3 separate regions of the Homo sapiens genome follow, and all the other regions are linked to region 1. The links come from fine-mapping of genetic effects on gene expression. A gene starts in region 1. Each other region holds a variant in brackets. All regions are shown on one strand. Distances are from middle to middle.

Region 1 (10,703 bases):
CAGCAACTCCTGAGACTTGCTGTGGCAGAGAATGACCCGCAGGGCAAACGTGGATCCCAGACTGATGCAGGACTCTCTTTCCATGCTCTCCTGAACCTTTTTTTTTTTTTTTTCTTTGAGACAGAGTCTCGCTCTGTCACCCAGGCTGGAGTGCAGTGGCACCATCTCGGTTCACTGCAAGCTCCGCCTCCCGGGTTCACGCCATTCTCCTGCCTCAGCCTCCCGAGTAGCTGGGACTACAGGCGCACGCCACCATGCCCGGCTAATTTTTTGTATTTTTAGTAGAGACGGGGTTTCACCATGTTAGCCAGGATGGTCTCGATTTCCTGACCTCGTGATGGGCCCACCTCGGCCTCCCAAAGTGCTGGGGTTACAGGCATGAGCCATCATGCCCGTTTTTTTTTTTTTTTTTTTTTTTTTTTTTTTTTAATTTAAGAGACAGTCTCGCTCTGTTGCCCAGGCTGGAATGCAGTGATGTGCTTTTAGTTCACTACTGCCTTGAACTCCTGGGCTCAAGTGATCCTGCTGCCTCAGCCTCCTAAGTAGCTAGGACTCTAGACATGTTGCCACTATGCCTGACTAACTTTTAAAAATTTTTTTGTAGACATGGGGTCTAGCTATGTTGCCCAGGCTGGTCTCGAACTCCTGGCCTCAAAGCATTCCTTCCACTTGGCCTCCCAAAGCACTGGGATTACAGGCTGTCTTGAATATTTCTATAGCAAAAAGGAGTTTGTATTTTTAAAGGAGGAGTTTTGGCTTCGTTCTCTTGATAGGGGAAAAGTAGAGTTTTAACTCCCAGCAACCGAATCCTAATCCTCAGGCAGGAAATGTTTTGCATATAAGGCAGTGGAGAATCATTGGGATGGGGAGAAAAGCAAAACACACAAAAGTTTTGTGTGTTTTTACCAAAGCTTCCCTGGAGATAGAATTATGATGCAGCCCAGACTCACCATTTGCCAGGAGCCCAGTACCTGTACGGTGTCTGCTAGGTGCTGACTTCTCAGGTCCCTAATTGCTGCCTTCGGAGGTGTTAGTGGAAAAGAGCCCTGTTGCACTTTCTCCCTTTTGGCTCTGTACCCTCGAGCAAGTCCCCAAGCGCATCTCGGTAGCAGGCACTCAAAGGTCTGAATATGAGCCACCAGTTGGGATTGAAATTTGAGTGAGACAGTCCCAGCGAAAGCCTTGCAACTCCAAGTGTGGTCCATGAGCCGGCAGCATTGGCATCTCCTGGAAGCCAGTTAGGAAATCTTTTCAGGGCCTCACTCCAGATCTACTGAATCAGAATCTGCATTTGAAAGAGATTCCAAAGTGATACCGCCTACACGTTAAAGCCTGGCTTCAGAAAGAGAGAAAGAAGTGATTCCAGTACCAAATGGCAAGGGAAGTGAATCTCTGTCATCCCTTCCACTCTAACAGGCAGCATGTGCTATTAAGTTAGCCTCACTATAGCTATTATCAGTGCTTGCTGAACTGAATGAATGTTCCTACCTCTGAACGGCAGGTTTTAAAGAAGAGATTCAGTTCGGTTAAAGGTACCCTTAAATCAACCACTTGGAATTGAAGCCAGCCCTGCTGGAGACCCAGTCCCCTTCATGGAACACATAGCTGCCTTCCTGTGATTCTAAACACCACTGCTACAAAGGAAAAGATTTCCAGTCTCACCTCAAGTGGAAACTGGTGCTTCTCGTTTTCTCAGCAATAGACTTGGCTTTGCACAGAAATGGCATGAACCTAAAACCAAAGCAATCAGGGACTTAAGTGGGGCCCGTTGGCTTTTTTTAGTAACCTTATGCTAAGAGGTGCAAAGATTTGAGTGCTAGATTTCAGACACAAGTGCCGAGGCAGCCAGGAAATTGTTAGTAATGAATGTTTAAACTCCCAAACGTTGTACTGAAGACAAAAGAGCTTTTGTGGCTATACTGAAACTATTGTTTTAAAATTTTATTTATAAATAAAAGATATATACATATGTGCTTTAATATGATTAACAGGTTCCATTTTGTACAAAATGTTAAACCTAGAGTCCTCTGCGTCCTGGATGAGGCGTCCAAAGGGTGGAATAGTACAGCATTAGGACCTTTGTTCTCCTCTTGGCTTCTGGAAGAGAAACTCTTGCATGCCCTCGACTTTCACCGCAAAAATAAGTGAGAAAAAAGATAAATCCCATTTATGCAATGATATGTAGCTATGAGTTAATCACGGTATTTCATTCCATGAAATCCATTAAGCTGCTGGCATTTGCATGGCTCTAAGTTTATTTTAAGAGGCTCATTCAAACATGGCCAGGAATATATTGGCCTCTTGAGAGTTTGCATGGCAAGGAGTTATACAGCAGGAAAAAGAAAAAAAACCCAATAATTATATTGATGCAAGATTCATCAGTATTTTAGAATATTGTCGTTTCAACATGTTAAATTGTTTCTGAGCACTGCTGATTTCAGCACTGTCCCTGGTCCACGTGACGCAAATGCCACCCTTTCCATATATTCTTCAGCAAAAATATATGAAAAGCCCGTCACTCCCTAAGAGGACCCTGATCCCTCTGGAGAGGAAAACTAAACTCTTTAAGAAGAAAACCAAACCCAACCTGAACTAATCGTCCAAGGAGTCCTGTTTGGTCCCACGAAAGGCAGATTTCCATCCACACCAGTGAGGGGCAAGTGTCCGGGTTCCAACTCGAAGCCAGGCGGGCCTGTGCGGGGGTGAGTCCTTTGCCACCCGGCGCCCCCCAGGCTCTACAAGCGTCTAGAGGTCGGAGTCGCAGGGCAGCGAGCTGTCGCAGGGGTGGGTGCTGCACGAGGGAGCGTCCTGGGACTCCCACCCCTCCCCGTCGAGGACGTCCACCGAGTTGGTGTAGGCCTTGGGCCGCGGCCGCGGCATGGGGAAGCCGACCTTGGGCTTGGGCTTGGGCTTGCGGTGCTGGGCAGGCGGCGGTCGGTGCTGGCCGTCGCTGTAGTACTTGATGGCGGGCGCCAGGTCGGGCTCGGGCCACTCCACTTGGATGGTGCTGACGCTGCTGCGGCGAGGCCCGGCGGAGGGTCCCTTGCGGCGGCGGCGACAACGCTCGTCGCACCAGGGCGCGAAGCTGAGCGCCAGCGAGAAGCCGCCCAGCAGCAGGAGGCAGCTGCCCAGGTAGCCCAGGACCAGGCTGTAGCTGACCTGCACCGTGACCGGGCTGGCCGGGGCGGGCAGCACGTCGCGGTCCCCCAAGAAGTGGTTGTACCAGGACACCGGGATGAGGCCGAGGAGGCCAGCGACGAAGAGCACGACGCCCGAGAGCCCTGCCAGCACGAAGTTGGGCTCGTCCTGCCAGCAGCGCACGCCCAGCGACGCCAGCAGAAGCCCCAGGACCGTGGCGGCCAGCGAGGTGACCATGAGTGCCCGCGCCACCAGCACGGGCTGGGCCTCGAAGTAGCCCCACTGGTCCGTCTGGCCGCACTCGCGCTCGCGGCTGCTCTGCTCGCGACACATGTCCCACAGGCCCTGGTACAACTCCACGTCCACTGGCTGGTTCAGGAAGCCCTTCACCAGCCGCCAGCCGGGCGCCAGGGTGCCGGTCAGGTTGAGCAGGAGCCCGCAGGGCGCCAACACCATGCCCAGCGTCATCACCACCGGCGTCCGCATCCCGGCCCGCCGCGCCGACGGCGCCCCTGCAGCCTGCCTTCCTTCTCCGCTGTCGCCTTCTCCGCCGTCGTCTTCTCCCTGCCGTGCCCCAGGCTCCGGGGACCCGAAGTCAGCGCGGACGCCCCGGGCTCCGGGTCGGGCTCCTGAGCCCTGATCGCTCCAGGGACGCTCTTTGTCTCCTGCACGGGGACCGTCCCCACTTAGGCTAGTTCCCTCCTGGCGTCCCGGCCGCTCCGCCCTCCTACTGGCCCTAATCGAAACCAGCCCGCGGGCGGGTCTGACCGAAACCGCGGGTCCGGGCGCGGGCGCCCAGGGGCGGCTGCCGCGGCCAAACCTGGCCCGGGAGGGAGGGACCCGAGGTGAGCGCAGGAAGCGGCGGGGCCACCTCGCCCGCGGCAGGTGAGATGGGGATCCGAGCGGCGGGGACACCCCACCTTGCAGCCGGGCGGCTGGGCCACGCCTGGCCTGGACTGCTCACGGCCGGAGCAAAGGTCGCCCCGCCCCTGGGTCCTCGCGCCGCCCCGCCGGGCCAGGCGGGCGGTGGGCGGGGAGGGAAAGAGGCGGCGCTGGCGGGACGCGGTGGCTGCGCAGCTTCCCTGCTGCTCAGCGGATCTCGGTTCCTAGAATTTGTTTCCGGTCCCTGCCCGTCGACCCTGCGCTTATAGCTTAGCCCTTTACTCCCAGAGGGTTCCAGATCGCCCCCTGGTTTGCTCTGCAACTTGCAGCCACTCGCAGAGAAGTGGGCGGTGCCGAGCGCTCCCGGGGATTGGAGGTGCGCTGGGTGAGTGTGCAGAAGCCCACCCAGTCCAGGAGCGTGTCCCAGAACGTTGCACCGGATTATTTCCTTAATAAAGGCTCCACACTCTGGATTAAATTCGTCTCTAAAGAATCTGTGCCAGTGTACTTCTGGGCAGAAGGGTTACACAAGGATTTTACTTTCCTTTTTCAGCCTTGTGAGACTTTCAAGGGGACTAGAAAGAGGGACCAGTGTTCCCGGATGTCCTGCTTAGCGTTTTTTGCAGGTTTATTTAATTTTACAGTGTACTGTGGCCTTTCTCGTCTGTAGGTTATTTTACAACTCTATAAATTATAGAAAGCCTGTAGTATTGCAAATGACTTTTGCCAACATCAAGGCTAATGAGTTCGTCCCAGTGGAATGATTATTGTCCAATGGATACTGACCAGTATGGCATTGATTTGTAAATTCATTTTAGCATTCCTGTTTGTCTGTATATGTGTGTCCTTTTGTTCTTTGCTTTTTTTTTTTCCTTTTTCTTTTATTTATTTATTTATTTATTTATTTATTTATTTATTTTAAACAGGGTTGGGGAGTTTCGCTGTGTTGCCCAGGCTGGTTGCAAACTCCTGGGCTCAGGTGAGTCTCCCGCCTCAGCCTCTGGAGTAGCTAGGACTGCAGGCAAGTGGCCAGCTTCTTTGGTTTTAACATCATACTGGTTTCCTTATTCAATAATGAGTTAAATAACCTCTTTCACACATATTCATTTTATATTTGTGTGAAAGTCACGATGTTTACATTTTTTCTAAAAATTATCCTTTAATAACACTTTTTTGTATTTTCTAGATTTTTACAATGAAAACGTATTGCCTTTATAATTGTTTAAAATTAAAACTATTTTTAAAATTCAAGTTAATTTAGCATTGGTTTGAAATAATTTTGAATATTCCAGAGTGGACAACACTAGGAATGACAGTGACTGCTTTTTTTAAAAGAATATTTTTAAATTAAAAAAAAAACCTGTGGTAACATATATGTAACATACAGTTGACCGTTGTAACCATCTTTAAGTGTACAGCTCATTGGTATGACATACATTCACATTGTTGTGATACCCTCACCACCATCCACTCCTGGGATTTTTTCCTCTTCCCAAACTGACACTGTACCCACTAAACACTAACTCTCCTTTCCTCCCTCCCTCACAGGCCCTGGTGATCACCATTCTACTTTTTTCTCTCTATAAATTTAACTACTTTAGGTACCTCATAGAACTGGAATCGGACCGTATTTGTCCTTTCGTGACTGGCTTATTTCACTGAGCTTAATGTCCTCCAGGTTCATCCATATTGTAGCATGTGTCAGAATGTCCTTCCTTTTGAAGGTTGAATGATATTCTATTGTGCATAAATACCACATTTTGTTTATCCAGTCTTCCATCCATAGACACTTAGATTGCTTTTACCTTTTGGCTATTGTGAATAATGCTGTTGCATCATTTATGTAATAGTGATATATACATCACTTTTAATTTTTTTTAATTAAAAAAATTTTTTTTGAGATGGAGTCTTGCTCTGCTGCCCAGCCTAGAGTGTGACGGCAAAATCTCGGCCCACTGCAACCTCTGGTTCCTGGGTTCAAGCAAGCAGTTCTCCTGCCTCAGCCTACCTAGTAGCTGGGATTATAGGCACCCACCACCATGCCCAGATAATTTTTGTATTTTTAGTAGAGACGGGATTTTACCTTGTTGCTCAGGCTGGTCTCGAACTCCTGACCTCAACTCATCTGCCAACCTTGGCTTCCCAAAGTGCTGAGATTACAGGTGTGAGCCACTGTGCCTGGCCTATGCATCATTTAAAATTTGTCTTGTTTCATTAACTGTGTGGTGATTAACTATCTAAAGCAGGAATCAGTCTGCCATCCCTCTCATACATGTCAGAAGGTATCATGTGTGACACTGCCACTTCATAAATGCTTCATGTGATTTGAATCCTCTTCCAACATAGTTTCGTTTTTGCTTAGATCTCTGTGGAATGAGTGAAGCCCAGGTGTTATTTACCTGTGGGGAGGAAGGGCATCCTGGGGGTTCTACCTCCTAAATCTGTCTTTCGTCCTTCCATGTCTCTTTCTTCTCTACTGCCTCTTCCCAGTACAGGCCATTCTCCCATCTTTCTCCTTAAGCTGCTAACTGGTCTCCTACACCGGGCTTTGTGGCTCCCTTTTTATTAGCCACACGAACCTCACAGCTGGCCTGCATCAACCCTTTACAAGACCATTCCCAGTCCCACCCAGCCCTGCATTCCAGCCCTGTCTCTCCCTCCCTGCCGCCTCATCTCCTCACATTATAACCCAAAGAAACTGGATTTCCCCCCACATTTTCCCCGAACATTGTGTGCCCTTTTGCTTCCAGACCTTTGCAAATGCCCTTCTCTTTTCCTAGTGCCCTGCCTATCACTTCCCCACTCCAGTGCATCCTTAGATCTTTGCTTAAGTGCCATTTTCTCTGGGAGGGTTTCCTCATCCCCTAGATGAAGTTAATTAATTTTTCCTTTCATATACTTCCGTGACACCCCTTCTGTCACACCACTTACCACAGTTCCTTAGTCCTTGAATCATTTTGTTTTCTAGCTGGTCTGGGAGTTCTCTGAGGGCAGGGACCACATAGATCTTGTTCTGTTCTGTCCTCCAAACACATCTTGGTGCCTGGGCCACCGCAGCCACTCAACAAATCAATATTATGTCTTTCTGCCCTGAGTTCTTCCACATAGTACCTACTGAATTTTCCAACAAATGACCGTCTGGCCAAAACAGATTGTGACATACATCTCAGTAAGCAGGTTGATTTGTTTGAATGTTTCTTTTTCCTTAGCATAGAAAACAATCTATCCCATACGAGTATGGGATAGCTCCAGATATTTACGACAAATAAGCGTAGGCCTGTGGGGCTCACTTTCTGCGACAATAGAGAAAGAAGTGACTGTGTTAAGCATAGCATCTGGGGATAGAGCTGACCTCTGTTCCCTGGCCTTCTGAGTTCATCTGAAGTCTGAGGGAGAAATAAAGCATGAGTCACTCTGTGGTAGGAATGAATGAATGATTGCTGACATTAGGACCTGGCTGTGTAAGTGGATACCCAGGTTCTACCACAGATTTCTTTTCTGAAGAAGGGCCCGGTAGTAATGCAAGAATCTGTTCACTATGCTGCAGCTTTTGAAATGAATAGTGAGCCCCCAGCAGTGAATTCTGAAGGGACTGATGCTGAGTCCCCTGTTTGCCTGCACTCTAGGCCTCTGCTACCACCTCGCACAAAGGTGCAACCTGCAACAGCTTCATCTTGGAAAGTCACATTACCAACTTTGGCTAGGACAGAGGGTCCACTAGATCATCAGTCCTCAAACTCTTTGGCACCAGGGACAGGTTTCATGGAAGGTAATTTTTCCATGGGGTTGTGGGGGTAAAGATGGTTTCGGGATGAAACTGTTCCATCTTGGATGATCAGGCAACCTAGATCCCTCGCATGTGCGGGTTACAATGGGGTTCACACTCCCATGAGAATCTAAAGCCACCACTGATCTGACAGGAGGTGGAGCTCAGGCAGTAATGCTTGCTCGCCCATGGCTCATCTCCTACTGTGTGGCCCAGTTCCTGACAGGCCACAGACTGGTACTGGTTGGTGGCCCAGGGGTTGGGGACCCCTGCACTAGATCACTTTGCCATAATAAGATGTCCTCAGATTCCCTCTGCCAGGTCTTTATTTTACTTTCTCCAAAGGCTATTTTCTCTTTTTCTTCCTGGAACTCTGAACACCCTTTCCTGTGTTTGCTAAGCGATAAGACAATTTTGTTCACAATGTTATACTATGAGAATTCTGAATAGGAGTGAGAAATGAACTCCACTGATAATCATCCTATGGTAAATCTACTTCAGTGAGTTATAGAATAAAAATTAGACTATGAAAAAACTTAAACTATGATCTTTATTTTTAAATAGCATTAAAACAGCCTGAATTGAACAAAGCCCCTTCAATATTGTATTAGTTTTTCTTTTTGGCCAGTAGTCCAACAGCTGTTTTACCAACTGTGAGTGCCTAATATTGTAGAAAATAAATCAATAACTTTTCACATCGAGTGTGAAATAGCCCTCTTGTTAGCTCAGTATCACTTCCCTCTAATTTGTTCTGTTTATAGAATTTATCACTGCCACGTGTTTTCTAATATGTGTGTACTGACTTATCTATATTGTTTCCTACACCGCATTGTAAGTTTCAAAGACTAGAGATGTTGCTTGTGGCTATATCTCAGCTGCTGGAATAGTGCCTAGCTCTTAGTGGTACTCAGTACAAATCTATTAAATAAATGAAAGAATTTTTGTAAAGTTCCTGCATAGTAACACAATAGAAGAATGTAGCATACATCGCTTTTTAAAAAATTATAGTAACATCCACATAAAGTTTACCATCTTAAACATGTTACATGTACAGGTCACCTAGGTAAAGGTCAGTAGTCTTAGGTTCATTCACCTTGTTGTGCAACCAACTGGCAGAACTCTTTCCATTTTGCACGACTGGAATTCTATCCCCATTCATCAATTCTCCATCCTTGCTATCCCCCAAGCCCCTAGCAATCACCCCTCTATTTCCTGTCACTCTGAATTTGACTACTCTAGATAGCTTATGTAAATGGATTCATACAATATTTGTTATCTTGTGACTGGCTTATTTCACTTAGCATAATGCGCTCGAGATTCATCTATGTTGTAGCATATGTCAGAATTTCCTTCTTATTATGGCAAAAAATAATATCCTATTGTCGATAAATTCCAGATTTTGTTTATCCAGTCATCCATCAGTGAACCCTTGGGTTGCTTCTACCTTTTTTGGTTATTGTGAATGCTGCTGTGATGTATACATTTTTTTTTTTTTTTTTTTTTGAGATGGAATCTCACTCACTGTAGTGATCTTGGCTCACTACAACTTCTGCCTCTCGGGTTCAAGCGATTCTCCTGCCTCAGCCTCCTGAGTAGCTGGGATTATAGGTGCACACCACCATGCCTGGCTAATTTTTGTATTTTTGGTAGAGACAGGGTTTTGCCGTGTTGGCCAGGCTGGGTTCAAACTCCTGAGCTCAAGTGATCTGCCTGCCTCGGCCTCCCAAACTGCTGGGATTACACACGTGAGAGTATACAACATTTTGAATTTGTCTTATTTCATTTCTTGTGTGGCGACTTTAGATGGCCACTAAAACAGGAATCAACTTGCCACCCTCTCACACAAATCAGAAGGCATCCTGTGATACTGTGCCACTATTTCAAAAAATATGCTTAAGTTTTATCTTCTAGTGGCTTCAAACCCTTCTTGGCGTACAGTCACAGTGGCCTCCCTTGACAAGAGGGAAATGCTGGGTGGGAGTTGGGGTGGGAGTTGCTGTTCTAGGAATCAGCAGCTGCCTCTGTCTTGCCATGCTTGCTTCTCTTCAACCCTGGCCCTTCCTGTCTACTGCAGGGCAAACATATTTACCATGCCATGGACAAAATTCATTGAGGTCTTTGAGATAATTTTCAGTTTCTGTTGTTATTTATTTATTTATTTTTATTCACAAGGGGTTTGTTTCATTTTTGGCAAAATTTATCTTTTGAGAAAACCACATGGCCACTGGGCAAAGTCCTAAATGTAAAAACCGAGTACTACACTGATGGTAACCCTTTCCACGTTAATGTACAGACCCAATCCAATCCCAATAAAGTGTCAGACAGGAACTGGACAGGTGATTTCAAAGTTCATTCAAAAAAAAAATAAATGAATGAAACACATCAAGAAACTTTTAAATAGAGCAGTTATGAAAGGGTCTGCACACTCCAGCTGTTAAATGTAGTTTAAAGCTATAATAACTTAAATTCTATGTTAGCACTAGAATATGAAGGTAGATCAATAAAAATATCATCAATTGAAGCAAAAAAGTAGACCTTAGTTATAAATTTATAATATGAGAAAAGTGGGATTTCAAATCATAGAGAAAGGCATGAAAACTCAATAGTATTGTGGCAATTGTTTAGCTTTGGAAGAAGAAAAAAACCTAAGTTCATACATATACATTACAAAATATGTAAAAACAAAGTCTAGGTGGACTACCTAGTTACACGTAAAAACTAATACTGGCCGGGCGCGATGGCTCATGCCTGTAATTTAGCACTCTGGGAGGCCGAGGCAGGTGGATCGCTTGAGGTCAGGAGTTCAAGACCAGCCTGGCCAACATGGTGAAACCCCATCTCTACTAAAAATACAAAAATTAGCCAGGCTTGGTTGCGAGTGCCTATAATCCCAGCTACTCAGAAGGATGAAGCAGGA
Region 2 (10,703 bases), 19 kb after region 1:
GTTCTGTCTTTAACATAATGTAAGTTTCACTGCTGATTCATTTTATCTTAATAGACAGGTAAGCATAATTTTGCACATGACATTTGGAGATGATCTGCACTTGGAAAATGAACTGATTTGTTTTCTTCCCTGCAGAACATGGGAAAGGAGAACTCTAATAGGTTACAACCAGTTTACTTCACCAGCTCCCCCTTTGGCATTGAAATAAGCGTTTTGACTTCTTTGTAATATACCTGAATATCATTTATTAGAATTTGACACAAAGACAAGTGTTCTTCATTGTTTGTATCTGTAACTAGGGAAATATGTTTTCTGAGAGTTTTAACATTCCAATCCATCATCTAGCTAATCCTTTTAATCCCTGTAGATAAGTAAATAGAAAAAAATGTATCAATCATTATTTTTATTTTTACTAGCCCACATCCTCATTCAGAGGTTGCACTGTTGATGATATTAAGGCAATCATGTTCTTTTTTAAACACCTGACTCATTGCTTGTTTCTAGTTAATATGGAAATAAATGGCGCTCTCTCTCTCTCTCTTTTTAATAAAAGGCTGGCTTGTGCTGTTCCAGTGCTTACAGTGAAACTGAATGTCAAGTGAAGCCATCTGAAAATAAAAAGGGACCAGAAATCATCTTGTCTCTTTATTTTGTGACATGTTTCATTCTTCTCTTTCCAGCAACTTTAAAAAATTCATTCAGTTTGCTTCCATTTCTGTTATTTTAAAAATATGTCCTCTTGTTTCTTTGATTTTCTTAAGTAGCATAAGCCACTCCTGCCTGTAGACACACACACTCATTCTGCCTTGTTGTGCTGGGCCGTCAGCAGGAACCACTCTTAACTCTAGCTCCATGTGAGCTCTCTTCCAGGAAGTAATAGAGCTGGGGAGCTGGTACTTGAAGGATGAGACTTCACCAGGCAGTTAAAGGAGAAAAGCGATCCAGGCAGAGGAAACAGTGGGAGCTAAAACCTGGAAGAGTAACTCCTGAGGGTCATGAAGTTTGTCCTACTATAAATGTACAAATGTGTGTGTGTGATCTCACCATCGCCATCACTGTGACGCTGCTGAGGCAGGTTCAGAAAAAACTTGAATGTCACGCTGGAGGGTGTGGTCTTTATTCTGCAGGTGAGAGAACTATGAGTGGTTTTAAAGCCAGGTAATGCCATGCCCTGATTTGGTTTTGAGCCATCACTCTGTAGCAGAACAGAGAGAAAGGGGGGCTGGTTAGGAGGCTATTTAATTGCGGTGTATCACGTGACAGATGTTAGACTTGGAAGTCAGTATTCCAGAAGAGAAGAGCAAAAGTAATGTGGTACTGGGGGTGGTGGTTAGCCTGGGGACTGGGTGCATGGCGAAAGCCAAGTTTCACAGCAAGACAGGGAAAAGAAGGTGTGTGTGAATGGCGAGGCCAGGGACAGGGACGTGGGAGGGGAGGAATTTGGCTTTGGATATTTAGAAAGTTCAGGGAGGAAGATTGCATAGATGACTCTGAGATCTGATAATGGATCAAGGTGAAGTCTGATGCCTTTTGTTTGCTTGCTCGGTTGCCAGCATTTTTAGACACTTGTTTATCTGTTTGGGTGTTGTCTCTTTCCACCTGCAGCTCCCTAGATGTTTACGGTCACTTTTCATACATATATATATATATATATATATATTTTTTTTTTTTTTTTGCGACGGAGTCTTGCTTTGTTGCCCAGGCCGGAGTGCAGTGGCATGATCTCGATTCACTGCAACCTCTGCCTCCAAGGTTCAAATGATTCTCCTGCCTCAGCCTCCTGAGTAGCTGAGATTATAGGCACATGCCACCACACCCAGCCAATTTCTGTAGTAAAGACGGAGTTTCACCATGTTGGCCAGGCTGGTCTTGAACTCCTGACCTCAGGTGATCCTCCTACCTCAGCCTCCCAAAATTCTCAAATTACAGGCATGAGCCACCATGCCTGGCCAACTTTTCATTTATAACAATGAAAGTTTCCCATTGCCTTTTTTTTTTCTTTTTGCTGAAATGTACTCTTCTAGCATTTAAAGTCAAAGTGAATACAATGTCAGGTTAACCCACTTGAAAATAAAAGCAACCAACTGCCATAACAAGACTTAAAAAATAATATAGAGCTGCTGCTTTTCCTCTCTCTCATGTTTTATTTTTACCCTTATGATTTTCTCATAATCACTTTGATTTTTTTCTTCCAATATTCTTTTCCCATCTTCCCACTTAGAAGGAAGCAGTAGATATTGGGGCATTTTTCCTGGTCATTTTCAGAGCATTGGTTCTGCACTGCAGGGTTAGTTACCTACCACCTACCTAGGAGATGGGGGAAGTTACCTCCCCCTCTCTCAAGCTGTCTCGGGGAAATAATTAGAAACTCAGATTAAAATTTTCATTCCCATAGCTTGAGCTGTGAAACAACAAGATACATGACAATATTCTTGGAATATCCTTACTCATAAATGTCAGAAAATGCCTTCCTTAAAAAATAGAAATGTAAAAATTTCTTCTTTTTATTGCAACACTTACCTATGGGCATGTAATAGCCCTCACTGAATAGTTGTTGAATGAATTAAAATATAAATTATTCACTTTTTTAAATTATTATTATTTTTGAGATGTAGTCTCACTCTGTCACCCAGGCTGGAGTGCAGCGGCACAATCTCAGCTCACTGCAACCTCCCAGGCTGGAGTGCAGTGGCGTGATATCGGCTCACTGCAACCTCCGCCTCCCGGGTTCAAGCGATTCTCCTGCTTCAGCCTCCCGAGTAGCTGGGACTACAGGCACATGCCACCATGCCCAGCAAATTTTTTACTTTTAGTAGACACGGGGTTTCACCATGTTGGTCAGGCTGGTCTCAAACTCCTGACCTCAGGTGGTCCGCCTGCCTTGGCCTCCCAAAGTGCTGGGATTACAGGAGTGAGCCACTGTGCCCGGCCTAAAATCTAAATTATTAAAAAAAGGTTTATGAACTCTACGAATGACTTCTCCTTTTTATTACACAGCACCACTGTTGTAACAAAATGATGTTAGTTTTAATCTCCAAACCAGTTCCGTAAAATGCTAAAAACTCATGATGATTCAGAGACATGTTGACTGTCATCTGCCACCAAATCACCATTTAAAAAGATAAAGAGTCCTATATTAGATAGAAAGAGGCCTCATATAGAGTATTTCATCCCCCAAAGCAGGTGCTCATCAAAATAGATTCTAATAATTATGGACTCTAATTCAGTGGATGATAGGCTTATGTTACAGCAATCAAAGTGCCTTTTTTCAATTAGTGCATGTCAAATAGAATAGGAAGGTTTGGGCTTCTCTGTAATGACATGGTTATTACCGATTTCTTAGAGTGTTGCAGTAATGGGCCGAGCGTGGTGGTTCACGCCTGTAATCCCAGAACTTTGGGAGGCCGTGGCTGGTGGATCACGTGAGGTCAGGAGTTTGAGACCAGCCTGGCCAACATGGTGAAACCCCATCTCTACTAAAAATACAAAAATTAGCCAGGCGTAGTGGTGCACACCTGTAATCTCAGCTGCTTGGGAGGCTGAAGTGGGATAAGTGCTTGAACCCAGGAGGCAGAAGTTGTAGTGAGCCAAGATTGCGCCACTGCACTCCAACCTGGGCAACAGGGCAAGACTCTCTCTCAAAAATAAAAAAATAAGTAAATAAATAAATAAATAAAAAGGACGTTGCAGTAATGTAATGTTTTCCAACATTATTTTAACGAGGTTCAGCTGAATCAAGTTACCTATCCATGGTTTGGCGTCAAATCAACACACCTGGGGCAGGTTCTAAATTTGTCTACATTATTTTTCTTTACGGAACTTTCCAAACTCTTGCTAGGCCACAACATGAACCTGACAATTGTTTCTTTCTGAGCGAAGATCCTGTCAGACAAGTGAGCCATTGAGACTGGAACCCGCTGTGGGTTTGTGTGTTGTATGTTGCAAAAGGCAGGGTCCTTTTTGCATAACGGATCCTCCTGAGACTGAGGCTGGACTTGAGTTTGTTAGTCACAATTTTCATTTCCGTAATGAAAAACCACTTTCTTAAAGACAACTTTATTAATCAGAGAGTGGAATTTCAGATTATAGAGACAACTAAAGATTTGGATGAATTTTAGCATCCATTCTGTCTATAGTAAAATGAAGATGCTGTACCTTCCATATACCATTTCCTGGGTGCCAGGCATTGTGCATAGTACTTAGCTCACATCAACTCATCCTATTCTTTTGCAACGGGGTGTGAAATGTGACTTTTCCTGTGCCCTCCTTGTGTTTGGCAGAGGCTTCAAAGCTCAACCACAGCAGGTGCCAGACCATCTCTGCAGAACCAGTTTGGCCACCATCACTCATCATGCTCCTCCAGGCTCCATAAGAAAAAGTGCAAAAATTCCCTAGGAAGATCAGGGCAGAGACATCCCTCTAGAAAGAGTCTTCTGCCATGGTGTGGCCTCCCCATTTTCCCGGTATCTCCCAGGGCTCTTTGTACAAGGCGGGCTCTGCAGAGAGACAGTAAAAACCAACCTGATTCTTCCTCAATATCATGGCATGTATTTTTCCAATAATTGCTCTTCTCTGTCCTTGGATGAATTTCTGAGTTCATTGATTTACCTATCACCTTCAGATATTAAAAAATCTGATACATAGTTGAAATGCCAACACACATTTATTTTTTATTTTTATTTTAAAAAATATTTTTAAAGTAAATACATAAAGACATAGGCTTGCTGTGTTGGCCATACTGGTCTCAAATTCTCAGCCCTGAGCGATCCTCTCGCTTTGGCCTCCTGAATTATTGGGATTATGGACACGAGACACCGCACCCAGCCCCAACCCACATCCAATTCACCACAGTGTTTCCTCTCCTTAGACGCATCCTGCCTCCAGCTAGGAGGTCTACAGTGTGGCCAGGCCACAGTTAACTTCCTTCCTATCCCCTCATCTGTCTTCCACTAGTCCTTTCCCCGAACTTACTGTGCTCCTTTGGGGTTCAAGGGAAGAGAGGAGAAGTGTTGAGGGGCTGAAAAGGCTGTCTTTGACTGGGGCAGTGCTAATCTGCCCACACAAGTGTGGCACATGGCCACATATGGATTGTGTGTCTCCTGGGTCCCTCTTGTGGGGATCTTGGACAGCCCCATTGGGCACAACCAATGATCATTCCTGGGTTGGCCTCTTCAACTTCTATCCACTCTGACTCCCTGTAGGTGGGGATTACTGCTGCCACCTCCCCTCCTCCCAAGATGGTCTTCTCAGATGGAGTCTCCTTCTTTCTTTCTTTGGCCCAGATCAAGGCCATCTGGCCCATGGAAGTCATAGCCGCTGTGATGCCCCTGGTGTGGTGCTTCTAGCTCCTCCTAGAGCCCACTCCTCCCTCTGCCTCCAGGGAAGTTCAGCCACAGCTTCTCGCTTTCAGCCTTTTTATAAAACACAAGTGAGGCTGGGCATGGTGGCTTACACCTATAATCCCAGCATTTTGGGAGGATGAGGTGGGAGGATCGCTTGAGGCCGGGAGTTTGAGACCAGCCTGGGCAACATGGCAAGATCCCCTCTCTAAAAACTTTTTTTTAATTAGTCAGGCATGGTGGTGCACACCTGTGGTCCTTGTTCCTCAGGAAACTGAGGTAGGAGGATTGACTGAGCCCAGAAGTTCAAGGCTGCGGTGAGCTATGATCATGCCACTGCACTCCAGCCTGGGTGACACAGTGACACCCTGTCTCTAAAAAACAAAGCAAAACAAAAACCATGAATGAGACACCAGTCCATGCATACTCTCCACACTTCAAGTTTTCCAACATTTTCTAATATTTTCTGGTTTCTCTCTGATCTGAAGCAGGTGGGTTGCAGAAGGGCACCCCTTTCCTTACCTGCCTCCTCCCATTTGGGTGAACTGCATGGCACCCCAGCAGCCCTCCACAAGGACACTCTCCCTGGCAGCCTCTCTAGCACATCTTATTAATATTCTCTTTTATATCTTGAGAGGAGTAATTGGCTCATTCGGCAATGGCGGCAAATGGGTTTGGGGATAATTCTGCAAGTCTTGTGGAAATGGCCAAAAGCCTGCCTGAAAACGTGGTGGTGCTTGACACTTCTTGTTTTCAGTTTT[C/G]GGTCCTTGGTCCAAACTCTGCTAACACTTAATCTGTGGATTAGGAGTTTACAAATGTCCTTTTTACAAATGTTGAAACTAAGACTCAGAAAGATTAAATAAGTTGCCCAAGTTTGCATGACTAATAAATGGTAAAATGGAATTCTGCTTACTGCTGTCTCGTGATTTCCCAGAATCCAGTGAGTGTTTACAAAACCCGGGATAGAGGTTAGGAGAGGTTGCTTGAGTTTCTGACTCAGCAGTTTTGTTGCTATTCATGTAATGGAAAACCATATTCTAAAACACAACTTTTCAAGCACAACCGATCTGTTGTATGGTCCTGAGTTTAGCTAAAATTTTATTTCTTGTAAAAACTGAGGCTATGTGGACTGTAGGTGAGTCCTTTTTGGTTCCCAGAGTTTAGAACAAAGAGTCAGGAGGCTGACCCCACAATCTCCAAAGTCCATTTTTCCATCTGAACAGATAAATAGGGTCCTTTAAGGTGGTGGAAAATAAGTACCTTTTTAACATCTCTCTAGAATAAGAAACACAAGGATATTGTATAACAGCTTAGGACTTTTGTTTCCCTTTGACTTCTCACATTGCTTTTGTGTAATGTTGGCATTCAAAGTTTCTTTATTTTTTTGATTAACATCCGTGTTTTTTCCTAGGGCTGCTGTTGCAGAGAAACACAGAGTGGCTTAGAACAACAGAAATGCATTACCCTGCAGTTCTGCAGGCTATGGTCTGAAATCAAGGTGTCAGCAGGGCCGCGCTTCCTCTGAGCCTCTAACGGAGGATCCTTCCTTGTGTCTTCCAGCTTCTTTTGGCCTTAGGCAATTTTTGGTTTGCAGCGGCGTTAACTCCAATCTCTGCCTCCTTCATTACGTGGCCTTTTCCTTAAGTGTCTGGGTCCACATTTCCCTGTTCTTAGAAGAACACCAGTGATATCTGACTAAGGACCCACCACTCCAGTCTGACTTCATCTTCACTTAGCTAATTGCATCTGCAAGGACACTATTTCCAAGTCAAGTCACATTCAGTGGTACTGGGAGTTGGAACTTCAGCATACCTTTCTAGGGGGCCACAATTCAACCCATCACAACTCTCAGTTACATATTTCCATCCCCATGGAAACAGGAGCTGCAAAGGGCATTTTTGTGAAGAAGCTAAGGTTGTCTTTGAAGCCTGCCTTCTTTTCCCAAGGGCAGAGGAAAACTTCTGCCACTCAGCATCCTACATTCTCAAAGCCCTCCATTTGGGACACAAGGAATTTTATACATTCACACATCCAATGTACATTGGTTTGGCTGTGTCCCCACTCAAATCTCATCTTGAATTGTAGCTCCCATAATTCCCATGTGTTGTGGGAAGAACCCAGTGGGAGATAATTGAATCATGGGAGTGGTTTCTCCTATACTGTTCTTGTGGTAGTGAGTAAGTCTATCAATATCTTTTGGTTTTTTAAGGAAACCCCTTTCACTTGGTCCTCTTTCTCTCTTGTTTGCCTCTATGTAAGACGAGCCTTTCCCTTTCCGCCATGATTGTGAGGCCTCCCCAGCTGCATGAAATTGTGAGTCCATTAAACCTCTTTTTCTTTATAAATTGTTCATTCTCGGGTATGTCTTTATCAGCAGTGTGAAAGCAGACTAATACATACATTGCTAGCCCTAAATTATTTTATGGTTATTCCTCCTAGAATCTTTCCCTTTTAAATGTTGGTAATTTGAGCTGAAGGAAAAGAATTTCTGGTTAAAGCAGAGACAGAGAAGGGGAGAAGGAAGCTGGCCTCGAGGAAGCTTCTTTGGATATGAATATGCCATAAGAACAAATCAGAAACACGGAGCCAATGACTTCAGCTCTCTGTACACTCCTTCTTACAGAACCAGGAAAGCAGACCCTGGGCCCAACCACTCTGCAACACAGGGAGTGTAAAACGCCTCCTGGGTGTCATACTCTACCTCTGTTGACTACTTGTGAGTGCACACCAGCAAGTTGTGCAGAGCCATTAAGAACTGCCCTTCTCAGCCGGGCACCTGTAATCCCAGCACTTTGGGAGACGGAGGCAGGTGGATCACTTGAGGTCAGGAGTTTGAGACCAGCCTGGCCAACACGGTGAAACCCCATCTCTATTAAAAAAAAATTACAAAAATTAGTCAGGCGTGGTGACGGGTGCCTGTAATCCCAGCTACTCAAGAGGCTGAGGCAGGAGAATCGCTTGAGCCTGGGAGGTGGAGGTTGCAGTGAGCCAAGATTGTGCCACTGCACTCCAGCATGGGCAAACAGAGCGAGACTCCATCCCAAAAAAAGAACTGCCCTCCTCAGCCAGATACCACCTGAGCGGGACCTGAATTTGGCAGTTGTGGTCAGCCGCAGTTCTAGCACGAACAGTTTTTGGCATAGTGTATTTTTCTAAGAATAACAGATTAGGTTTATTATCTAAAATGAAAACTTTAATATAAATAGAATACTACATGTAGTATGATTATGTATGCTGTTGTGTTATATAATTTACATAATAATATAATTTTATCTAGACTTAAAACAATTTACTATAACTAGTTCTATTCATAGCATGTGTGTGTATTTTATTCTAAATAGCTGTATATTATTTAATATAAAAAAGTTATAAGAACTTTCAACACGCTTTTTAAAAACTAATTCTAGGACGATTGCAAATAAATAAAAATGCTGTTGCCTTCAGTGCATATAATGATATAATGAATCGATTGTTTTGCATATAAATTCAAATATAGAGTTTTCTCAGCTCACACCAAATAGGTTACTATTCACCCCTAGGCAGATTTCTCCGGGCTGGTTTTCCCAGGGTCTCCCGTGGTTGCTCTGTCACACAACTGCAAGGGCACTGGCAACTTTGTGTTTTCTTTTCTTTTCTTTTTTCTTTTTTTTTTGAGACGGAGTCTTGGGCTGTCATCCAGGCTGGAGTGCAGTGGCGCGATCTCAGGTCACTGCAACCTCTCCCTCCCGGGTTCGAGTGATTCTCCTGCTTCAGCCTCCTGAGTAGCTGGGACTACAGGTGTGCACCACCACGCCTGGCTAATTTTTGTATTTTTAGTAGAGATGGGGTTTCGCCATGTTGGCCACGCTGGTCTCAAACTTCCGACCTCAGGTGATCCACCTGCCTTAGCCTCCCAAAGTGCTGGGATTACAGGCATGAGCCACCGTGCCCAGCCTATTTTGTGTTTTCTACCAGCCTCCCTCTAACACCATTCCTGGCATAGAGCAGACACTTAGTAAATATATGTCTTTTAATCTCAGTAAAATAAATGCTTGAGTTTATTCCTTTTAAGGGTAATCTGTCATGGTTTAAGACAAAATTGGACTTTCTATAGACTGTGTCAGCCTTGATAAGTCTTGAAATCTTGGGTACTACTAAGGTTACCAATTTTAAGAGTTAAAGCAACAATAACAGCAAAATACCTTTTGATGACCTAAAAACTTGTTGCATCATTTCATGTGAAAGATTTGAGAGGCATAGCTAGAAGAAAGACTGCCAGCTTGGAAACCAAATTCAGGCTTGATCAAGGCAGATACTGACCAGTGACTCAAAAGTGACAGAAAGCTTCCTGTATTTAATCAAAGATTCGAAGTCAACAAGTAACAGAAAGATACAAATAAGGCCGCTTAGGCTGCTTGGCATACGACTGCGTCATTCTGTTGAACAGGAAAACAAAAGTACTTGACCTTTGCTGTTGTATTTTATCGGGAGACATGAGGGTCCTGTGGAAACAGTTCAGGTCTCACGTAATAATAGCATTTGCTGTTCTTTAGGTTTTAAAAATTTTGATGCGTGAGGAATTCACTTTTCTGTTTCAGGTTTCTCATGCATAAAATGAGGACAATAATACCTGTAGCATGGTGCGATTGTAAAAATTGAGATAATACAGTATCCTGCGTGGTGCCATCTTTAAAATTTCTTCTGTGGATCGCACATCTCCTTTCCGCTACTGCTCTAGGGCTCTGCTTCTGAACAAAGCGTGTCCTCTCAAAAGACTTGATATTAGGCCTCCATTCTCACAGACTCTTGTCATCATCCTGCTCCAATTAGTTCTTTGGCTCTAGCCCATCAAGTTCCACAATGACCTCCATATCTGTTAAATCTCATGGTCAATTCCTGTCAATTTCCTGTCCTCAGAGCAGCATTTGACACAGCTGAACACTCTGCTTTTCTGGAAATGTAGTTTTCTCCAGGCTTCCAGGATTGCACTGTTGCCTGGAATTCCTCCACTGACACGACTCTTTTACTTATCTCCTTAGTTCCCTTCTCCTTGGTGGATTTCTAAATGTGGGGGTGCTCCAGGATTTTGATCTGGGATATCTTCTCCTCTGTCTCTCCCTGCTGCTAAGGCCATCAAGTCATCTTATGCATATGTTGAAGACCCTTAGCCTCTCATCTGAGCTCCAGAATTGCATATGGAATTGTCCACTTGGATTTCTAAGAGGCACCTCAAACTTAACATGATCCAAAGCAAACTGTCCATGTGAACTTCTCCCCTGTCTTCATCCCACCCACTTCTTGCCTAGTCTTCCTTTTCTTCCTGCATGGACCTCTCTTTAATTTAGCTGCTCAGACAAAAAACTAGAAGTCATCCCTTGTTTTTTT
Region 3 (10,703 bases), 42 kb after region 1:
TATGCTGCTTTGTGGCCGGGCGCGGTGGCTCACGCCTGTAATCCCAGCACTTTGGGAGGCTGAGGCTGGTAGATCACCTGAGGTCGGGAGTTCAAGACTACCCTGGCCAACATGGTGAAACCCCATCTGTACAGAAATACAAAACTTGGCCGGGCATGATGGCAGGTGCCTGTAATCCCTCCTACTTGGGAGGCTGAGGCAGAAGAATCACTTGAACCTCGGAGGCAGATGTTGCAGCGAGCTGAGATTGTGCCCCTGCACTCCAGCCTGGGCGACAAAGCAAGACTCCAGCTAAAAAAAAAAAAAAAAGCTACAGTGTTTCAATGTTGTCTGTGTCCCCACACGCAGATTGAATAGATATGACACCTTGCATATATATATATATATGTATATACAAAATCTCACTTTGTTGCCCAGGCTGGAGTGCAGTGTTGTGATCACAGCTCACTGCAGTCTCAACTTCCCTGGCTCAGGTGATTCTCCCACCTCAGCATCCCGAGTAACTAGGACCACAGGCATGTGCCACCATGCCTGGCTAATTTTTGTATTTTTTGTAGAGACAAGGGTCTCACTATGTTGCCGAGGCTGGCCTTGAACTGCTAGGCTCAAGTGATCCTCCTGCCTTGGTCTCCAGAAGTGCTAGGATTATAGGCAGGAGCCACCACGCCTGGCCACCTTGCATATCTTAAATGAAAGTTATACTTTCTTTTGATAGCTGTCATGTTTTGGAGAAAACAACCTATCATTTCATGGTAACTTTGACTTGGCCTATCCTATGAGTGGCTATAAATGGTTACTTCTTCTAGTTTACTCATTATACCAGGCTTGCTATTTGTCCCTGCTGAGTGGCTCATGTGGCAATAATTAATGCAATTATATAGCAAGATTAGCTTTTCTTTCATAAAACTCAGTGAGCTTGATGAACCAAGAGGGCAAAGGAAAAGAAGTAATGAAGCAGCTTGTAATTGCACAAAGATGAGCTGCTAGAGTCTACACTGCTGGAAATTTGATGTTGAGGAGATCTGAATCTTTAAGTTATTTCCCTAATTCTATATTGGGAATACGGAGGAAGGAAAATCAACAAAGAGCTTTGTTAGAAAGCATATTGAGTATTAATCAATACTTAAAGGATAACGTTTGCTCAAACATAGAGTACCTAGAATTTCTTTTTTAAGACACAGTTTCACGTAGGATAAAGTCTATTAAATTTTGCAGTGTAATAAACTGCTATAAACATAGAAGATTGGCCAGGCAAGGTGGCTTACACCTGTAATCCCAGCACTTTGAGAGGCCAAGGCAGGTGGATCACTTGAGATCAGTAGTTCGAGACCAGCCTAGCTAAAAGAGTGAAACCCTGCATCTACCAAAAAATACAAAAAATGGCTGGTTGGGGTGGGGTCCCAGCTACTCCAGGTGGAAGAATCGCTTGAACTTGGGAGGTTGCAGTGAGCTGAGATTGCACCACTGCACTTCAGGCTGGGTGAAACAGAGAGAGATCCTGTCTTTTAAAAAAAAAAGAAGAAGAAGAAGTTTAATACAACATCATTGCTTGAGCCACAGTTTCTGTACGTCAGAAGTCCTGGCAGGCTTTTCTGCCTTAGTTCTCTTTTATTGCTTTTTTTTTGAGATAGAGTCTTGGTCTGTCACCCAGGCTGGAGTGCAGTGGTGCGATCCCAGCTTACTGCAACCTCCACCTCCCAGGTTCGAGCAATTCTCCTGCCTCAGCCTCCCAAGTAACTGGGATTACAGGCATGCAGCACCACGCCTGGCTAATTTTTGTTTTTAGTAGAGATGGGGTTTTGCCATGTTGGCTAGGCTGGTCTAGAACTCCTGACCTCAAGTGATCCACCTGCCTCGGCCTTCCAAAGTGCTGGAATTATAGGTGTGAGCCACCACAGCTGGCTTGATTTTCTGCCCCAGTTCTTACAAGTCTGCAATCAGGTGTCAATTGGGGTCACATTTGAGGCTCAGGGTTCTCTTCCAAGCTCATGTGGCTGTTGGCAGAATCCATTTCCTTGCAACTGGAGAACTCACAGAGGCTGCATCTTCAAGGCTGACATCTATCTGGCTTTGAAATTCTCTGACTCCTTTTAAAGGCTCATCCGATTAGATTAGGTTCATCTAGAATAATCTTTTTTTTATTAATTCAAAGTCAACTGATTAGGGATCTTAATTACATCTGCAAGATCTCTTCTGCCATATAAAGCAAAATAATTATGGGAGTGGTATTCCATTGTACCCACAAATCCTGCTCACATTCAAGGGAAGGGGCTCATAATGAACATGTAACCAGGGGGTAGGACTCTTGGGACCCAGCTTAGAATTCTGCCTACCTCCCACTAAGCCCAACTCTGAAACCTGGACAGGGTACAATGACAGCTATTTGAAAACTCTGCAAAATAAATAACAGTAGGAAATCAGGGAACAACACCAGAATTCTAAGAGCCATAGAACTGGCAGATAGAAACAAGACCCAGCATAATACTGAAAATGTTCAGGATACAAACCAAAATTACTTGTGATATTAAAAAACCTCTAATTGTGAAGTGGCATCGTTGTCTGGGGTAAATACCTGAGGTTCGTTGTCTGACAGCCACAGAAAACTAGGACATTAAGACATAAAGAGTGAGCTTAAGAGCAGAAGTTTAATAGGTGAAAGAAAGAGAAGAGCTCTCTCCTGCAGAGATAGGGGTCCTGAACGGGTCACCAGTCTACGGTGAAATGCAGAGCTTGAGGAGGTAGTGTCTGATGTATACAGGTCCCAAAACATTGGTCGGACCAGGTGTGCCATTTGCATAAGGCACAAAAAAGCTGGTTAGGACTAGGTGTGCCATTTGCATAGGGTGTGAAAAACTGGCTTCTCCCACCCTAATCTTGTATTATGGATGGGTTCTCTACCTGGCTGCAGCCATGTCGCCTGTTTCTTTACTGTACACTTGGTAATAAAGAGAAGGGAAGATGGAGCCTCCATGTTGGATGTGCCTGGCCCCCGGGTAGCCCTTTTCTGTTGGTACACTGCTGGCATTCACACATGCAAGCTTCCAGCTTGATTATCTATCTTTGCAGCTTAAGTTTTCAGGCTGCTCCTTGATAGAAAAAATAATTTCTTGGGCTACTTTTTGTTAGAAGGGAAGCCTTGCTGAAGACTCTTTACCCTCACTATTTGCCTAAATAATTTATTTCTAGCTCCTGTATCATTTGCATGGGAAAAGAAAATCAACAGACACCAATGATTAGATGACACAGATAATAGAATATTCTAGAAGGACATTAAAGAAGCTATTATTAACGAGCAAGTCCAAACACTCTTGTAACTTTGGATTTAATTTGGTCTTACTTTTTCTAGTTTCTTAAGGTTGAAGATGAGGTAATTGATTTCAGAACGTTCTTCTTTCTAGTGTAGGCATATAGTGTTACACATTTACCCTAAGAACTGCTTTAACAGCATCCTGAAAATTTCTATATGTTCATTTTCATTTAACTGAAAATACTTTCTAATTTCTCTTTTGATTTCTTCTTTAATCCATTTAGTATTTACAAGTATATAATTGTGTATTATTTAGTTTCCATCATCCAAATAATTGGGATTTTCCAGAGATCTTTTCATAATCGATTTGAATTTACTTCCATTGTGGTCAGAGAACATACTTAGTATGACATGAACACTTCCAAATTTATTGTAACTTGTTTTATAGCCCAGAATATTGTCTATCTTGGCAAATGCTCTGTGTGTCTTTGAATACACTGTGTGTTTTGCTGTTGCTAGGTGGAGTGTTTTATAAACGTCAATTATGTCAAGTTGCTTAACAGTGACTTTCAAATCTTTGATAAGCTTGATGACTTTCTTTTTACTTCTGTCAATCAGAGAGCTAATTATTGAAATCTCCAAGTATAATTTTGGATTTATTTTGTTCTCTTTGTAGTTCTAACAATTTTTGCTTTATGTAGTTTGAAGCTCTGTTATTGTGTGCCACTGTTACTAATTTGCCACTCCAATTTTCTTTTGATTAGTATTAGTATGGTATATCATTAAAAATAATTTTTAAATTATTTTACTTTACCCATGTTTTAATATATAAAGAACATTTCCTTCTCCTCTTCTTCTTCTTCTTTTGACTTAACAACAGAAATTTATTTTTTCACAGTTCTGGAGGCTGAAAGTCTGAGATCAGGGTGCCAGCATGTTTGGGTTCTGGTGAGGGCTCTCTTCCTGGCTTGCCAACAGCCACCTTCTCACTATGTGCTTACATGGCCTTTCCCTGGTGCCAGTGTGGGTGGGGGCCAGGAGAGCAAGAAGAGCATGTCTTATAGACAGTATTTATTTCGGTCTAGATTTTCAATCCAGTCTGACCATTTCTGCAGTTAATCAAGATTGTTTAGCTCATTTACATTTAATGTGATTATTGATATGATTAGGTTTAAATCTGCCATCTTGCTGTTTGTTTTCTAGATGTCCTATCTGTTCTTTACTCACTTTTTTCTATTTTTGCCATCTTTTGAATTAACTGATCCTTGAAATAATTTTTTTTTTATTATTGGCTTACTAACTATAAATCTTTTTGTCATTTTAGTAGTAAAATATAGTGTATATAGTTTATAGTGGAGAGCATATAATTCTAATTTTTCACTGTCTTCTTTTGTCTGACCTACCACTTTATGTGTAAGAATCATACAATAGAGGCTGGGTGTGGTGGCTCATGCTTGTAATCCCTGCACTTTAGGAGGTCAAGGTGGGTGGATCACGAGGTCAGGAGTTTGAGACCAGTCCGGGCAACACAGTGAAACCCCATCTCTACTAAAAATACAAAAAAAAATTAGCTGGGCATGGTGGGGGGCACCTGTTATCCCTGCTACTTGGGAGGCTGAGGCAGGAGAATTACTTGAACCCAGGAGGTGGAAGTTGCAGATCCGAGATCGTGCTACTGCACTGCAGCCTGGGTGACAGAGCTGAGGTCAGCAGATCGAGACCATCCTGGCTAACATGGTGAAACCCTGTCTCTACTAAAAATAGAAAAATTTAGCCAGGCATGGTGGCAGGTGCCTGTAGTCCCAGCTACCCAGGAGGCTGAGGCAGGATAATGGCGTGAACCCAGGAGGCGGAGCTTACAGTGAGCCGAGATCGCACCACTGCACTCCAGCCTGGGTGACAGAGCGAGACTCCATCTCAAAAAAATAAAATAAAATAAAATAAAAAGAATCACAGAATAGAATATTTCTATTTCCCCCTCCTGGTTGCTCTGCTAGCACTGTAATATATTTTACTTACACGTATGAAGTTTAACTACATTGTTCTTATTTTTGTTTAAATATTCAGTTATCTTGTAAATAGATTTAATAAGAAAAATCACATATAGTTACAATTTTTGGTGTTCCTTTTTTGTGAAGCTCCTTACTTCCTTCTGCCTAAAAGACTCTAAAATGTCTTGCAGTGTGGATTTGCTAGTGAATTCTTTCAGTTTTTCTATGTTTGAAAACATCTTCATTTCATCTTTGTTTCTGAGAGATATTCTTGCTTGGTGTAAAATTCTAGCTTGATAGTTTTTATCTTTCAATGTTTTGAAGATGTCTGTTGGCTTACATTGTTTTCTATTAAAAAAATCTATTCTCATCTTTATTTTTGTTTCCTCTTTATGTAACATCTTATTATTTTCCTCTGGCTGCTCTAATATTTTGTGTCTATTATTGATTTCTTTAACAATTTGATTATGATATGTCTTAGTGTTTTGTTTCATGCTTCTTTTGCTTGGGGGTTTGTTGAACTTCTTGGATCTGTGAGTTTTTAGTTTCAATTAAGTTTGCAATGTTTTCAACTGTCATTTCTTCAAATATTTGTTCAGTTGCCTCTCCTCTCCTCTGGCAACTCCACTGCACGTGTATTAGGCCAGTTGAAGTTGTCTCAGAATTCACTGATCCTCTTTTAATTAAAAATTTTTTTTCCAGACAAGCGTGGTGGCTCACACATGTAATCCCAGATTTTGGGAGGCCGAGGCAGGTGGATCACATGAGCTCAGGAGTTCAAGACCAGCCTGGTCAACATGGCAAAACGCCATCTCTACTAAAAAAACACACAAAAAAATTAGCCAGGTGTGATGGCACACACCTGTAATCTCAGCTACTCAGGAGGCTGTGGCAGGATAATTGCTTGAACCTGGGAGCCGGAGGTTGCAGTGAGCCAAGATTGCACCACTCTACTCCAGCCTGGGCAACAGAGTGAGATTCTATGTCAAAAAAAGAAAAAAAAAATTGTTTTTCCTCTCAGTGTTTTTATTTTGGATAGTTTCCATTGCCATGGTTTCAAATTTACAGATCTATTTTTTTGCTATGTCTAATCTACTATTAATCCCATCAATTTTTTAAATTTTTGATATTGTAGTTTTTTATT[T/C]ACAGAAGTTCAATTAGAGTATTTTTGTTAAATCATTTTTCTCTACTTAACTTTTTGAATATCTGGAATATGGTTATAATTGCTCAATGTACTCGTCTACTAATGATAACATCTGTGTCAGTTTCGAGTCAGTTTTGAATTATTTCCCCCATCATGTGTTATATTTTCCTTATACTTTCTATGTTTGATAATCCTTATCAGATACCACCCGTTGTGGTTACTACCATTTTTGGATACGTGATACTTTGCTTTCCTATAGCTGTTCTTAAGCTTTTCTCTGGGATGCAATTAAGTTGCTTGGGTATAGTTTGAGCCCTTCAGATTTAGATTTCATAATTTGTGAGGTGGATCTGGAGCAGTGTTTGGTCTGCGGCTAATTATTTCCCACCGCTAAGACAGAATGTTCATGAGTATTCTGCCCAGTGTTCAAAAATGTGTTTTCTCCCTGGCTGGCTGGTGGGAGGGAACAGCTAATAGTCTTGACACTTGGTGAACACTGTGTGCTTTTCTCTGATCCTTTCAGATGTTTTCGCCCCTCTGGCATTGAGTAGTATCTTCACATGCTGTCACGATCAATACTGTGTGAATATTGACAGAACCCCGTCCAGATCCCAGGATTCTCTCTCTGTACAACTATCTCTGCTGGTTCTCTGTCCTGTAAACTCCAGCTGCCTTGCTATCCCTGGACTCTCATTTCCATCTTCTTGCCTAAAGGAGTCCACCAGCTTCTACCTGGGTTCTCCCTTCCTGTGCCACAGTCTGGAAACTGTCTCAAGACAGTGAGCTGGGGCAAAAATAGGGCTCCACTAATTTGTTTCCCATCTCTTGGAGGTCACTGTGCTTCATTGCCTGATAACCAACGTCTTGCAAACTGTCATTTAATACATTTTGCTGTTCTTGTTTGTGTGTGTTCATACTGGTTTCAGGCAGGTGGCAAAATGTGTCCACCTTAAGTCAAAATCTGACTCCATCTTAAGCAGAAACAGTTTTCTTCCAGCAGTGTATCCTTGCCAGGTATACTGAATAATCACAAAATGTTTTGCTGATGCAAAAGTGAGATGCTGGGAGGTTAAAGGCCTCACCACAGAGCCATCTCCCCGTGATGCTACCTCCTGGAGGAAGGGCATGCACTTTTCGTGTCTTTGCGAGAGAAGTTTTAGTAGAATCTTTCCATCCTGGCACGTTACTTGGCTATAATTACATTACAAATGCTAATGGGAGTTATAATCACAATTATGCTAATCTCTGTGTTTAGTGCCTACTGTTGCAAGCAATTATGGCCAATGAGCTCAATTTGTAAGTTAGCATTTATTAAAGTTAGCCACTGAAATATTCTGTCTTAGGCAGACTGCCTCTAACATTTTTGACTAAAGTGATTTACTTAAACAATTTCCTAATAGGGAATAAGTACTTACAAAAAGGCTTTTCATCTTCATTTTCCTTTGATGAAACAGAAAGGAAAACATGCCTGGAGTCAATGTTTTGGCCTGTCTATTAGATAACAAGGGCTCTGTGAAGTTCTTTAAAAATATTTCAGAGAAAGTTTTCTGAACAAACTGCCCAGCTCTGGCTCAGAGCTCTTACAGGAACTGTAGAGGAATTGATGAGGAGAAACCTCACATCCCAAATGGCAGCAAATAAGAGACTTGGCAGCCTGTGTAGGCAGTGGAAGACAATTAGGACAGGAAATTAAACACACACACGATCTCTTTATATTTACGTTTCATGCATTTATCTGGGAGTCCATCAAAAGCAGATATGTTAAATGGATGTAGAACTAGACAGGCAAGATTCTAAAGCATACATTTTTCTCATTGCTAAAAGGAGAACTGTAACTGAGATGGTCTTGAGGGCGTTTGCTTTTTCCAGGAGTTGATAATTTTCTGATCATCAACTCCAGGGTCCAGGACCTCATGCTGGCCTGAGCTTCTCAGGGCCCACCTTGGGGTACCCAGCAGGACTTATTACAGTGGAGCCTGGCATCTACCAACATGTGACCTTCTCTCCCAGTTTCTGTGCTCCATGTCTTTAAGGCCTGATGGTTCTTCTTGGTTTATCTGATCAACGAATACAAGGAAGGCACTGCTTGTATTGTGGGTGCGCTGTGGGGCACAGGCAGGAAATGCACAAGATAACCCCTGAGCACTTCCAGCCTGTGTCCTGCCCAGCGCACCTGCAAGGGGAGGGAAGAAAATCATAGAGCTGTTATTTATATTTATTTTTATTTCATTATTTTCTTATTTATATTTCATAATGTTTATAATATATTAGGTATAGTAATATGAACGTGTGATTCAAACATATATACGTACAATAATACACCCATCTAATTTATACACAGTTAACCCTAAACTTGCCCTAATTGTGTAAATCTCCTTTCTAGGTATTCTATCAATTTGTCGTCTTTTTTTTTTTTTTTTTTTTGAGACAGAGTCTCACTCTGTTGTCCAGGCTGGAGTGCAATGGTGCCCCCTTGGCTCACTGCAACCCCTGCCTCCTGAGTTCAAGCAATTCTCCTGCCTCAGCCTCCCAAGTAGCTGGGATTACAGGTGCATGCCACCATGCCCAGCTAATTTTTGTATTTTTAGTAGAGATGGGATTTCACCATGTTGGCCAGCCTGGTCTTGAACTCCTGACCTCAGGTGATCCGCCCGCCTCGGCCTCCCAAAGTGCTGGGATTACAGGTGTGAGCCGCCACGCCTGGCCAATTTGTCTTCTTGAAGACAACTCTGTCAGAGCCTCCGAACCTGTGCCAATCTGGGTTTCTGGCTCTCTGGGTTTGCCGTATACCTGTCGCCTTATGCTGTCTCTTGGCCAACATTTGGGAATGATCGTTGCTTCTTTCTCTCTTTAGTTGCATGGATCTCGTATCTTGCTTTCTCTGGGTATATTTCTGGCATATCTAGCTTCCTGAGAAAAGAGTAAAAGGAAGGTGTGGTGTTATGATATATATCGGTTTTTGTCCCCAGTTCCTGGCTCATAAGTCCCATAGCCCTTGTTAGTCATTTGTTATAATTCTGGTTTGTGTTAGGCCTCAGGAAACAGAATCTCTCCAACCTTCTCCTGCCCTCCTTTCATCTGCCCCAAGGCAGGACTCTAATCTTCCCCACCTTTCTGATGTGGGTCTTTAGATTCTCCTCAGAAAGGGTCCCACCCAATACCCCGGGGGAAGGCCTGCTGACATGAAGTTTGACGAAAAATCCAAGAAGACAGGGTTCAGTGAGCTTCTGGGTGGCTGAACACAGGGAATTTTCTGGAGGGTGGCACCCAGGGAGGGCATGGAAGCTCTGCACCCCTTCTGTCCTACCTCACCCTATGCATCTCTTCATCTGTATCCTTTGTAATACCTTTTATAATAAACCAGTAAATGTAAGTAAGTGTTTCTTTCAGTCCTGCGATTTGCTCCCACAAATTAATCCAACCCATAGAGGAGGTGGTGGGAACCCCAACTTGAAGCCCATTGATCAGAAATTCCAGAGGCCAGGCATGGTGGCTCACATTTGTAATCTCAGCACTTTGGGAGGCCGAGGTGGGTAGATCACATGAGGTCAGGAGTTTGAGACCCGCCTGGCCAACATGGTGAAACCTGGTCTCTACTAAAAATACAAAAATTAGCTGGGTGTGGTGGTGGGCACCTGTAGTCCCAGCTACTTGGGAGTCTGAATCAGGAGAATCACTCAAACCTGGGAGATGGAGGTTGCAGTGAGCTGAGATCATGCCACTGCACTGCAGCCTGGGTGACAGAGGGAGACTCCATCTCAAAAAATAAAAAAATAAAATAAAAAGAAGTTGCAGAGACCTGGATTTGCAACTGGAGGAGGGGCAGTCTTGTGGACTGAGCCCCCAACCTGTGGGATCTGACATTATCTCTGGGTAGACAGTGTGGGAACTGAATTGGAGGACACCCAGCTGGTGTCCACATATTTGTTACAGAAGTCTTCTGTGTTGATGATTGTTGTGGTGGTGTGAGTAGAGGGGAAATGTGGTATGAGTTTTTCTCTACACAGAAGGAATCCTTAAAGACTTTGTACATTTGAAAAAAAAAACTTTGGTGTTTTTTCACATTTAATCAATAATTTGGCTGGATATGGAAATCACTTTCCCTTAGAAATTTGAAGGCATTGCTCCCTTCTCCTCTAGCTTCTAGTTGTTGTTGAGGAAATTGAGGCCATTCTGATTCTTGATCTTTTGGATAAAACCTTTTTTATTTCTCTTTTCGTGTTGGAAATTTGTCAGATGTTTTCCACAGCTTCCCTCTAAAGAGTAACCACCATGATGACTTCTTGCACCTCCAGCCCTTGGTGAATGTTTTATGGTGGAA

Alleles and levels. Positions count from the first base shown, and alleles are read on the strand shown. Sizes are in standard deviations (SD) of each study's normalised expression. Not every link is listed here.
With allele G in place of C in region 2, the expression in monocytes after LPS of the gene that starts at base 4,086 in region 1 is higher (large effect, 0.80 SD a copy in Fairfax 2014).

The links.
Region 2: its variant is fine-mapped to the expression of CLDN23 in monocytes after LPS (Fairfax 2014, PIP 0.95). The same link has a PIP of 0.9 or more in monocytes after muramyl dipeptide.
Region 3: its variant is fine-mapped to the expression of CLDN23 in whole blood (INTERVAL, PIP 0.95).

The regions. Positions count from the first base shown.
Region 1 is chr8:8,695,320-8,706,022 of GRCh38, reverse strand. It overlaps CLDN23 (claudin 23), which reads right to left and starts at 4,086. Exons shown (of 1, transcript NM_194284.3): 1 at 1,927-4,086. The coding sequence starts at 3,624. The coding sequence ends at 2,746. RefSeq lists an enhancer at 3,293-4,260 and a silencer at 3,734-4,353.
Region 2 is chr8:8,675,990-8,686,692 of GRCh38, reverse strand. LOC105379225 (a long non-coding RNA gene) reads left to right here. Exons shown (of 3, transcript XR_948927.4): 2 at 1-19; 3 at 554-632. Among named protein-coding and RNA genes, the nearest start is that of CLDN23, 21 kb to the left of the region's middle. The variant C/G (reference allele first, on the strand shown) is at 6,101.
Region 3 is chr8:8,653,375-8,664,077 of GRCh38, reverse strand. No RefSeq gene overlaps it. Among named protein-coding and RNA genes, the nearest start is that of CLDN23, 43 kb to the left of the region's middle. The variant T/C (reference allele first, on the strand shown) is at 6,383.